Homo sapiens: one gene and its partner. The protein of the gene in region 1 purifies or fractionates together with the protein of each later gene. This does not show direct contact. Each region holds a gene or a part of one and is shown on either strand. Other genes may lie near its edges.

Region 1 (4,934 bases):
ACTGAAGAAGTTAACTGTTTAAAGGCAGCTTATACGTAAACTGAAACAACTTTCAGAACCTCTTAAAATATCCAGCCTACGCTTCTGATAGGAACTCTGGGTGGGAGGCAGTGAACATAACTCTGGGTATCAAGAATGATCCAAATCATATATTCTTTCAGAATCATTTACTCCATTTTTATAGAATAAGAAGGTTCAGGTGCAATTTTTGAGTATCTCATCATATACAAGCGTATTTGGTAGCACATTAAAAACAATCCATCTGCATGGGCTAGTTTTTGAAACAGTCCTACACAGCTTCGTATTTGAGTGAAGATCACCAAACAATGCATACTCAGTACTTTATCATTAGACCTACTTTGTAACTACCCCAAGTCTAACCTAGTGTATACTGATAACTAGTGAAACTCATATGAAAGCTTGAAAGCTCTTTTGCTATGAAACTAAAAAGATAAAAATACATCAAGAATTTTAAAAAATACACAGAGACTTTTTTAAAAAAGTGACTAACATAACTAACAATGTACTTACTGAATAGACTGACAACATGACAAAGGTTCTGTTGCAAATGTTAAAAAGCTTCATGGCACAGAATGTGCAATAACAATACAAATAATGGTAATACTATAATTTAAAAGGCTAAAATTTTATCGACTGTTAGAAAGTAAACAACTGCTGTACCACAGAAGATGCTAGAAGCGGCAGTTTCTGTGTAAGATTTTTAAGCATTTCGTATATTGGGACACATTTCAAATAATGCATATTTCTTAAATATCTTCCTTACAATTTTAGAAAACAAATACAAATTCTCAAACGCTTAGTCTTAAAACAGTATATATGTCAACTAACACAATGAACCACTTTTAATTATTAGTTTTTAAAAAGATCAAATTCCACAACTTTCAGTTTACTTTTAATTAACTCGGAATACTGTTTCCCTAAGTTTTCAACAAACTAAGGAGTCTAAAAAATAGTAACACGCCAAGCAGCAAGGCTGAAATGAGTATGCGTTTAATTTCTGTAGTTTTGACAGAGGACCAAGAGGACCAAGTGGTCCAGACTTCAAGTCCGTTAGATGTAACCCAGACTATGACTTCAGGTGAAGGAAAGCACAGCTGCTTATAATTCTGTCTGCAGCCACGGCTCTCCAGACCTCCCTTCACAACTAGTCTCACGCACATTTTTAATGCTGACAAATACTTCTCGAGCCCAGGAGTCCTGAAGTGCTTGGGTTTCTACCTATGAGGATGTCGAGACCAAAGGTTCTTTTGTGTTAGGATTTATACTGCTCACTTCATAAAATTTTTAAAAATCATGTTTATTTCATCCTTTTTCTCCAGAAAGTGTCACTAATGTGTCCTCAAGGGTTTCAGATGCAGTTCAGTATAGCTTCTACGATGCAGTCATTTTAGGAGCATTATCAATGTATTAAAACTTTAGCACTGAGTTAGAAAATTCAAACTAAATATCCTATTCTCTTCTACTGAACTAATGTGAAAGGACCTCACTCTTGGAAGAAAAATCATTTAACAAAATTTACTTTTTCATAAGGCTCTTGGAGTGATGTTCAACTCATACATTGGTGGCATTACCTTTCCCATTCACTCAGAATGACCAGGAGGTGGTAAGAGCCCTTCCTGGTCAGGTGAAGGACCGGCAGCTGCACTGCAGACACCAATCTTGGATGACGGGACAACTGATGAAAGCATATGTCAATTTTGGTTCACTTCCAAGCAAAAGAAAAAGGCAAAGAGAGTAGCATGTTTCTGAATTTTCAGAGTGGGTGGAGCCAAGGACAGATTTTGGAATCTGGGACTCTGGTGGGCACCTGTGGATGGAGCACAAGGCGTCTGGGACACCAGTACCGCTCTGACATTGAGACTGAGGGCACAGGCTCACAGCAGCAGGCTGGCCTCTGCTCACTCCCCATCAGGATGCTGAGCCACAGTTCTGATCCTGCCTACTACTTACCATTGTGAATCATGTAGTGCAAAATTTGTTCAATCACTGACACCACATAGCTAGCATCTTGTAAAACAGGCAAGTAAGTATTCTCAGACGAAAATACTTCAAGCATTCTCATTGGAAGTGCAACATTCAAACTGTCATCATTACAGTTTTGCAGCAACCTGTAAAAATGAAAAAAGTATTCACACACTTACAGGATGGCAAAATGTCACCAGTTTCCCCAAGTTACTCTCAGTGACAATGGTTAAGAAACTATTCCAGTACAAGATTATCTCTGAAAATAGGGACATCTTACAGATAGACAGGGAAATCATCCAACTAACATTCAGTCATTCAGACAGTTTTTAAAAGAATTCTCGTTATGTGCCAAACGGTATGCTGGCACTAAGTTCACAGACAAGAAAAATGGACAGTGGAGAAATGAACACGAAAAATTAAAGATTACAAAACACTGTAAGAAGTATTATAATCCATGAATTGTACCAAGAAGCTGCATTTAATTAAACTCAGATACGAATCTCTTTAACAGTGCATCTCATCTCCTTAAAGATGCTTTTGAGACTTTCCACGCCTGCAATATCCCCCAAATAGAACAATGATATATTTCTGGTCCTAAGTCAACTCTCATTTTGACTGAGGCTTCCCTTCTTACTATGAGAAGAACTGCAGGTTAACTATCCGTTTAGAGAGGGCAGCACAAGCAGTCGGGCAGGCCGCACCAATCAAGACACAGAGCACATCTGCCACTCCCGAAAGTTTCTTCTTGGCTGTCTCTAGTCCACTCCTCCCTCTTTCCCCCCACCCCAATCCTTTTTTCTATCAAAAACTTTGTCTAACACCGAACTTATTTTTAGATTTCTCCTGTTGCTTTCACAAGGTATTTTACAGCTGTTTTTCCTTTTTCTTAAAAAAAAAAAAAAACAGAATCCATCTGACCACACATCACCTTTAATGAGGGACCCAGGAGGCTGTTTCAATGCCTCACTGAAACTAACTTCTCTATGTGACAAAAGCCTTCTGCCCTGCCAGGAGGGGAATAACGTGCAGGGTTCTGGGTGGGGTGTGTCTACACGGCTTATCCGCTTACCGCAGGCTGCCTTCTGTCTCAACAGCCGCAAAGCCCAGGAGAGACAGGGGGTGAGGACCCAGCGGGCAGGCTGGGCAGGACACCCAGCCAGACCTTGTTTTGTCTTTGCCCTTTTCACAACTTTCCCCTCAGCACCACACTGGTGTCTCTCGAGGGGTGTACGAGTGCAGGAGGAGCGGGGCTACACATAACAAGCCGCTGGGACGCAAAGGGCAGCGGCGGGCGGTGGGAGAGCCTCTTGTCAACCTGGAAAAGTCAGCAGCATGTGTGCTGATAATCCCATGTGAGAGGTAAACCTGATAATGCAACAGAGAGAAGTGCTGGAACGGTGCCTCGTGTGAGAGACAACATAGGATGTAGCTCCAGGTTTATCGGGACAGCCTTGGACGGGAAAAGGATATCCATATTGTCAAGAGACAACCCACCTTAAAAAATGAAGTAAAAGATTTGAACAGACTCTTGAAAAAGAGCCATCTGAGTGACCAGTATGCTCCTGAGAAACACCCGTCATCATTAGTAATCCAGGAAATACAAATTCCAATCACAATAAAATACAGCTACACACCCATCAGAATGGCTGGGTTTTGACAAATGTCAATACCAAGGGTTCAGGATATGGAGGAACTGCGCCTCTCCTATGCTGCTGTCCTAAGTTTGGTAGTTTCTTCTAAAGTGAAATATATAACTACTATGTGACCCAGTGATTCCATGACTTCAGAAATGTTCAACGGCATTAAAAAATATGTATGTGATTAGTCATAAAAGGAGCTGCAGGTGGTTCTGGAAGGCCACATTTACAGAAAAAGAAAAATTCAATGTTCTGGCACGTGGCAGATAAGACTGTCGACTTACTAACATACACTTGAAGTACAATTTCTAACATTTACATTTTGTTAAAATTCCATTTCTCATCAAAAAGAATCAGTGCTCCTTAGAGAAAACAGCCCCAGGCCTGGGGCAGAGAGAGCACTTAAGGCTTTGTGACCTCACAGAAAACAAAGATCTCTCAAAATACAAATGAGGCCAAGCCAAGAAAAACGGGCTGCTTACAGGGTGCTCTCTACCTATAAGCAGACCATTAAAAGTCATCTGTCACACACTGTATTTTAAAAAATACATGAGACCTTACTGAGATTAAAGAGGAAAGATGAGGAGGAGTGTTTTCTTGTTGTTAAAGAAACATGGGTTTGGCTGGGCACGGTGGCTCACGCCTGTAATCCCAGCACTTTGGGAGGCCAAGGCAGGCGGATGACCTGAGGTCAGGAGTTTGAGACCAGCCTGGCCAACATGGCAAAACCCCATCTCTACTAAAAATACAAAAATTAGCTGGGCGTGGTGGCACGTGCCTGTGGTCCCAGCTACTTGAGAGGCTGAAGCAGGAGAACTGCTTGAACCCAGGAGGCAGTGGTTGCAGTGAGCCGAGATCACGCCACTGCATTCCAGCCTGGGTGACAGAGCAAGACTCTTATCTCAAAAATAAAAATAAATAAATAATAAAAAAAGAAACATGGTCTTGCTCTGCTGCCCAAACTGGAGTTCAGTAGCACAATCACAGCTCACTGCAGCCTCGAACTCCTGGGCTTCAGGTGTTTCTGGTATTAGAAATTTTTAAAAATAAAAGTTGGGAAAAGAATAATTATATTTACATATATCATGTATCAAAATTATTTGCTTATACAAATACATTCAAAAGTTACGTTAAAGGTGTTTTGCAAACTACAACCCACAGGCCAAACCAGCCCTAGGGCTGTTTTTTGTACGGCTGTTGAGTGAAGCATGATTCCTTTATTTTTAAAGAGTTGTAAGCAAAAGGCAAGAAAAATACATAATAGAGACCATATGTGGACCACAAACCCTAAAATATTTGCTATCTCGCCAT
Region 2 (4,934 bases), on another chromosome or scaffold:
TGTCTATTAGGTGAAAGTTATTTTTAATAAACAATGGATTAATAAACATATAGGTTTACTTGTAATATTATATATATATATATATATATATATATATATATATATATATATATATATATATATATATATATATATGTTTCAGAGACAAGGTCTTGCTCTGTTGCCCAGGCTGGAGTGCAATGGCATAATCGTGGCTCACTGAAGTCCTGACCTCCTGGGCTTCCGTCCTCCTGCCTCAGCCTTGTGAGCAGCTGGGACTACAGGCTCACAACACACATGGCTAATTTTATTTTTATATTCTTTTGTAGAGATGAGGTCTTGCTATGTTGCCCAGGCTGGTCTTAAACTCCCAGCCTCAAGCTGTCCTCCCGCCTTGGCCTCCCAAAGTGCTGAGTTACAGGCATGACCCATTACAACTGGCCAATTTTTTTTGTTTTAATTTCAAACACAGTAAATATGGATATAAGTAAACAAAATCTCTTTGGGGTCCTCCAAAAAAAGTGTGAAGTTTCTGAGACCAAAAAGTTTGAAAATTGCTACTGTAGGCCAAGATCCCTGGCTCTATTAGTTTGAGGAATCTTGCCAGGATACCTGCTGCCCAGTTCCTCCCTGTCAGCTTCTCTTAGGGCTTTGGTTATGTATAAATATTAGAGCTAGGGTAAGAAGCATAAATCTATGCTGCTCATAAAGTTAAGAAAAATAGGCCCCATTTTATTTTTTCTAGCTAAACATTTTCAACCAATTTATTTAAGCTTAATGTTAAATAATTTATATAAATAGAACAGTAGTATACTATACCTGTGGCATCCTAAGAAAGGAGAAATCAGGTTGTGGCATTCCAACAAGGGAACAAATTCGAGAAAGTTCAGTTACTGGTGTGGATACAGGAGGGATCTGGCTGGGGGCAGGCCAACACATATTGTCCATAGACTGAACATTATGGTACTCATTAGCACTGTGAGGCTTGTTCATATAAGATGCTACCAAAAAAGAGAAAAGAGTCTATCTTTATTAATAAAATACTATCTCAAATTATGCACTTATTGTAGGGTTTTATAGAAGAGCAAGCAGGAAACTGCTAAAAAGTGAAGTGAATTGCTCAAGGCCACCCATTATTAAATAACAGAATCAGGATTTCAGGTGGCTCTAGTTCCAAATCCTGGACTCTAGCAGTACAACCTGCCATCCAAGTGACTGTCAGCTTACCTTCAGTGGTCCTCTGGCCACGCACCTTATAAATTTGGTCGAAAACCTTGAAAAATTCAGTTAGACGCTATAGAGCCACCAACTGCATTAAAAAGATGAGTCTTCCATGAAGCACATATAAACAACTATTTAGTACTTCCTAAAATTATTGTGACTTCAGTAAAGGTTTTTGGATGAGTATAATTGATTAATGATAAATTATTAAGATAAAGATTTTAAAATATAAGTACCTAACTGCCAAAAATTAAAACCTTGAGCAGCTAATGACTACATGGTACTGCTACAGGTAAAATTTGAACAAACAAATGGCTTTCTTGTTTTGCAGAAGTAAGAAGAGAAAAATAAAAGAATGAATAAACAAATGGCTTTCTTGAGCTGAAATATAATTCATCCTTAAGTTTTGAAGTTTTGGCTTCCACCTCAATTCTTGCAATTCCACCTTACATTCTGAGACACATGGATGAATATTTTTGTGGCTCTGAAATAATATTTCTTAAAAGTTTTTTTTGAAATTGTCTTCTAAGTGTTTTTATATGGAAGATGATTTTAAAATTCTGAGTGTTCACATTCTTTATGATTAACAAACTCACTAATAGAACAAAAGCATACCTCATTGAAGAATTAATCCAAACTTCTTACTAATATAGATTAAAAAAGCAGTTAAGTGGCTTGCTCAAAGTCACAGAGCCAGTTAGTTCTATAACAGGGGCTGGATTCTGAGCTAGTGACCCTAAGACTCTAAAGCCTATGAGTTTTTTTTTTTTTTTTTCCTATACTGAAATAAAGTAAAACTTACTTGTTTTTGACAATGGGACCATCTTTATCTAATTTTGTCTTAAAATTAATTTGGTTCTATTTCAGGACCATGTCTGTCACTATAATAAATAATCAGGTTCCTAATATTTTTTGGAATTTTTAATTAATTATCACTGGAATATAAATGGGGTTAGGTTCTGCTTTTATTCCAGGTTTTGTTTTTGTTTTGACAGAGTTTCGCTCTTGTTGCCCAGGCTCGAGTGTGATGGCGTGATCTTGGCTCACTGCAACCTCCACCTCCCGGGTTCAAGCGATTCTCCTGATTCAGCCTCTGAAGTAGCTGGGATTACAGCTACTTGGTGGCGCCTGCCACCACACCCGGCTAATTTTTTGTATTTTTAGTAGAAAGGGGGTTTCACCATGTTGGCCAGGCTGGTCTCAAACTCCTGACCTCAGGTGATCCACCCGCCTTGGCCTCCCAAAGTGCTGGCATTACAGATGTGGGCCAACGTGCCCAGCCAATTCCAGGTTTTGATCTTTAATACGCTTAGATCTGCTTATTCCAAAATGTTTTTGACTTCTCTGAGAAACTTCTGCCCACATCCACTTTTGTATCAGTCATTCTTCCTGGCTGCCTTTAGTAGATCATTATACAGATAAAATGCTAAAGTATAGAGGACATTCAGGGTAGGAACAAATATGGCGGATATTTACTGAAATCCAGTTATGTGCCAGATGTTATGCTATAGGCTTTACAGACTTAAGAGTATGACTCACTTTCCTATATCTAACTCTATTAATGATTTTTAATTGATTTTGTAGATTTTTCTATTTTTACAACAGTTAGGTTATTTTAACATAATATTAATATCAATTATTAGCACCTACAATGTGTTGGACATAGTGCTGTTTTATATTTATACATGTTATATAATTACCACAAGTAATCTGTAATGTATTATTCTTATTTTATAAATAAGAAACAAGATTTCAGAAAAGTTAAATAATGTATTTAAGTTACATGATAATTTTTAAATTACTGAGGACAAAAGCTAGAATGTGCAAACTTTTAAAGGTTTGGATGTCTACAGAATGATTATCTATAACACTACAATTAAGTAATCACAAGAAGACATTTAGTGACTGTAGATCTATTGGTTACATGGTTGTATTATTATTGTTCTTTTTGTTTTTTGAGACAGGGTCTATCTCTGTTGCCCAGGTTAGAGTGCAGTGGCGTGATCTTGGCTCACTGCAACCTCTGCCTCCAAGGCTCAAGCAATCCTACCACGTCAGCCTCCCCAGTAGCTGGGACTACAGGCACACGCCACCACACCTAGCTAACTTTTGTATTTTTTAGAGAGACAGAGTTTCCGCCATGTTGCCCAGGCTGGTCTTGAACTCCTGAGCTTAAGAGATCCGCCTGCCTCAGCTTCCCAAAGTTCTGAGATTACAGGCATGAGCCACACCTGGCCAGTTATATTATTATATAACTGAAACAAATATAAAAATTATAGTTTTAAGAATAAAAGTAGTTTTGGGCCAGGTGTGGTGGCATATACCTGTAATCCCAGCACTTTGGGAGGCTGAAGTGAGAGGATTGCTTGAGGTCAGAAGTTTGAGACCAGCCTGGCCAACACAGCAAGACACCATCTCTAAAATAAATAAATACATTAAAATAAAAGCAGTTTTATCTTTAAAAGTACATGATTAAAAAGAACCAAATGAATTGAATTTTTAAAATGATATTATTGGTAATAGTATTTAGTTTACTTACCTAATTTCTTATTTTGTTTAGGCTGAGAGGGTAATCCATATTCATCTCTTCTGTTAGAGGAAACAGGGATTTCATTAGCAATCTGTTTGATTTCATTCTTATGGTCCACAGTGTTAGAGCCATCAATTTTTAGAATTTCTTTAAGCATCCGTGTTCCCTTCTTTTTGAAAATGATTCACATGGAGATGGTGAGGGTGAAGAGAACAAAGTCAACATTACATCTGTAGAACTTATTGATCTTTCTTGGAAAGAATTCCATTGTTAACAATTAAGACATTAACTACATTCAGATAGAAACTGAAAAAAAAAAACCCAACACCCACATTTCTGATACAGAAACGATACTTATCCTCCTGCTTAACTTTCATCCCAGTTACCTAGTAGCAATGTTTGAAAAGCAGGGGAACTGTGGTCTAAAGAGAAAAAGTATGGCTAAATTGCCCAGGGCAGCCTGGTTTCCTCACAAGATGACAATAATGATGTAACATACCAGCCTCCATGATGGAAGTGTTTGAACACTTGCATGGGATATGTCTGCATGGTCAACAGTCGAGAAATTACCACAGTAAGAAAGTTCCTACAAAATACGAACCATGGCAAATGACTGTGGTGACAAATGCTCTTCACTTGGAGGCTCCCCATGATGAGATGACTGTACTTCATTTTCTTTGGAGATATTCAAAGATGCTAAAAAGTTCTCAATTCCAGAGTTAGGCTAAAAGAATAAATATTTTGGGCATGAAGATGAACGTATAATACAAGAACACACAAAAAGCTGAGTTTTATGTACAAAAATGGTCATTCGATTTTCACTCAATCATCTTCCCAGGTGTTAAAGTTTGGGAAGAGAATTGGAATAAATAGTTTTTTACCTTATCAATAGCATTTGGATAACCAGTCACAACCTTTTGGGTTTCTGAGACTTCTGGACTTTCATTTCTCTTCAATAGCTTAATATTATATTTGGCAGGCCCTTCTAAAGTCTATTAAAAAAGTAAGAATAAACTTTTTGTGCAAATATATTTATAGTTAATATGTAATAGTGTTCTAAATAAATTGTTGCAAAAAAATTTTATGTGCTATTTTCCCTTTTGTATCATAAGAAAAGGGGCCTATAAACTTGGATGGGGAAAATTACACCTTAATCTTCATTAACCTCTCAATGAGATTTAGCATTTCCTGCAATTATGAATAT

The links. Proteins that work in one complex are often made in the same cells at the same time.
Region 2: the proteins of UBE3C (region 1) and XRN1 purify together in Homo sapiens (affinity purification with mass spectrometry; one large-scale study listed by BioGRID and IntAct). This does not show direct contact.

Annotation. Positions count from the first base shown.
Region 1 is NC_000007.14:157,175,885-157,180,818, reverse strand, and holds part of UBE3C (ubiquitin-protein ligase E3C), read right to left. Parts: intron 2,130-4,934; coding exon 1,972-2,129; intron 1-1,971. UniProt on the Homo sapiens protein: E3 ubiquitin-protein ligase that specifically catalyzes 'Lys-29'- and 'Lys-48'-linked polyubiquitin chains.
Region 2 is NC_000003.12:142,328,636-142,333,569, forward strand, and holds part of XRN1 (5'-3' exoribonuclease 1), read right to left. Parts: intron 4,455-4,934; coding exon 4,332-4,454; intron 3,900-4,331; coding exon 3,740-3,899; intron 1,003-3,739; coding exon of another isoform or gene 981-1,002; coding exon 799-980; intron 1-798. UniProt on the Homo sapiens protein: Major 5'-3' exoribonuclease involved in mRNA decay. Required for the 5'-3'-processing of the G4 tetraplex-containing DNA and RNA substrates. The kinetic of hydrolysis is faster for G4 RNA tetraplex than for G4 DNA tetraplex and monomeric RNA tetraplex.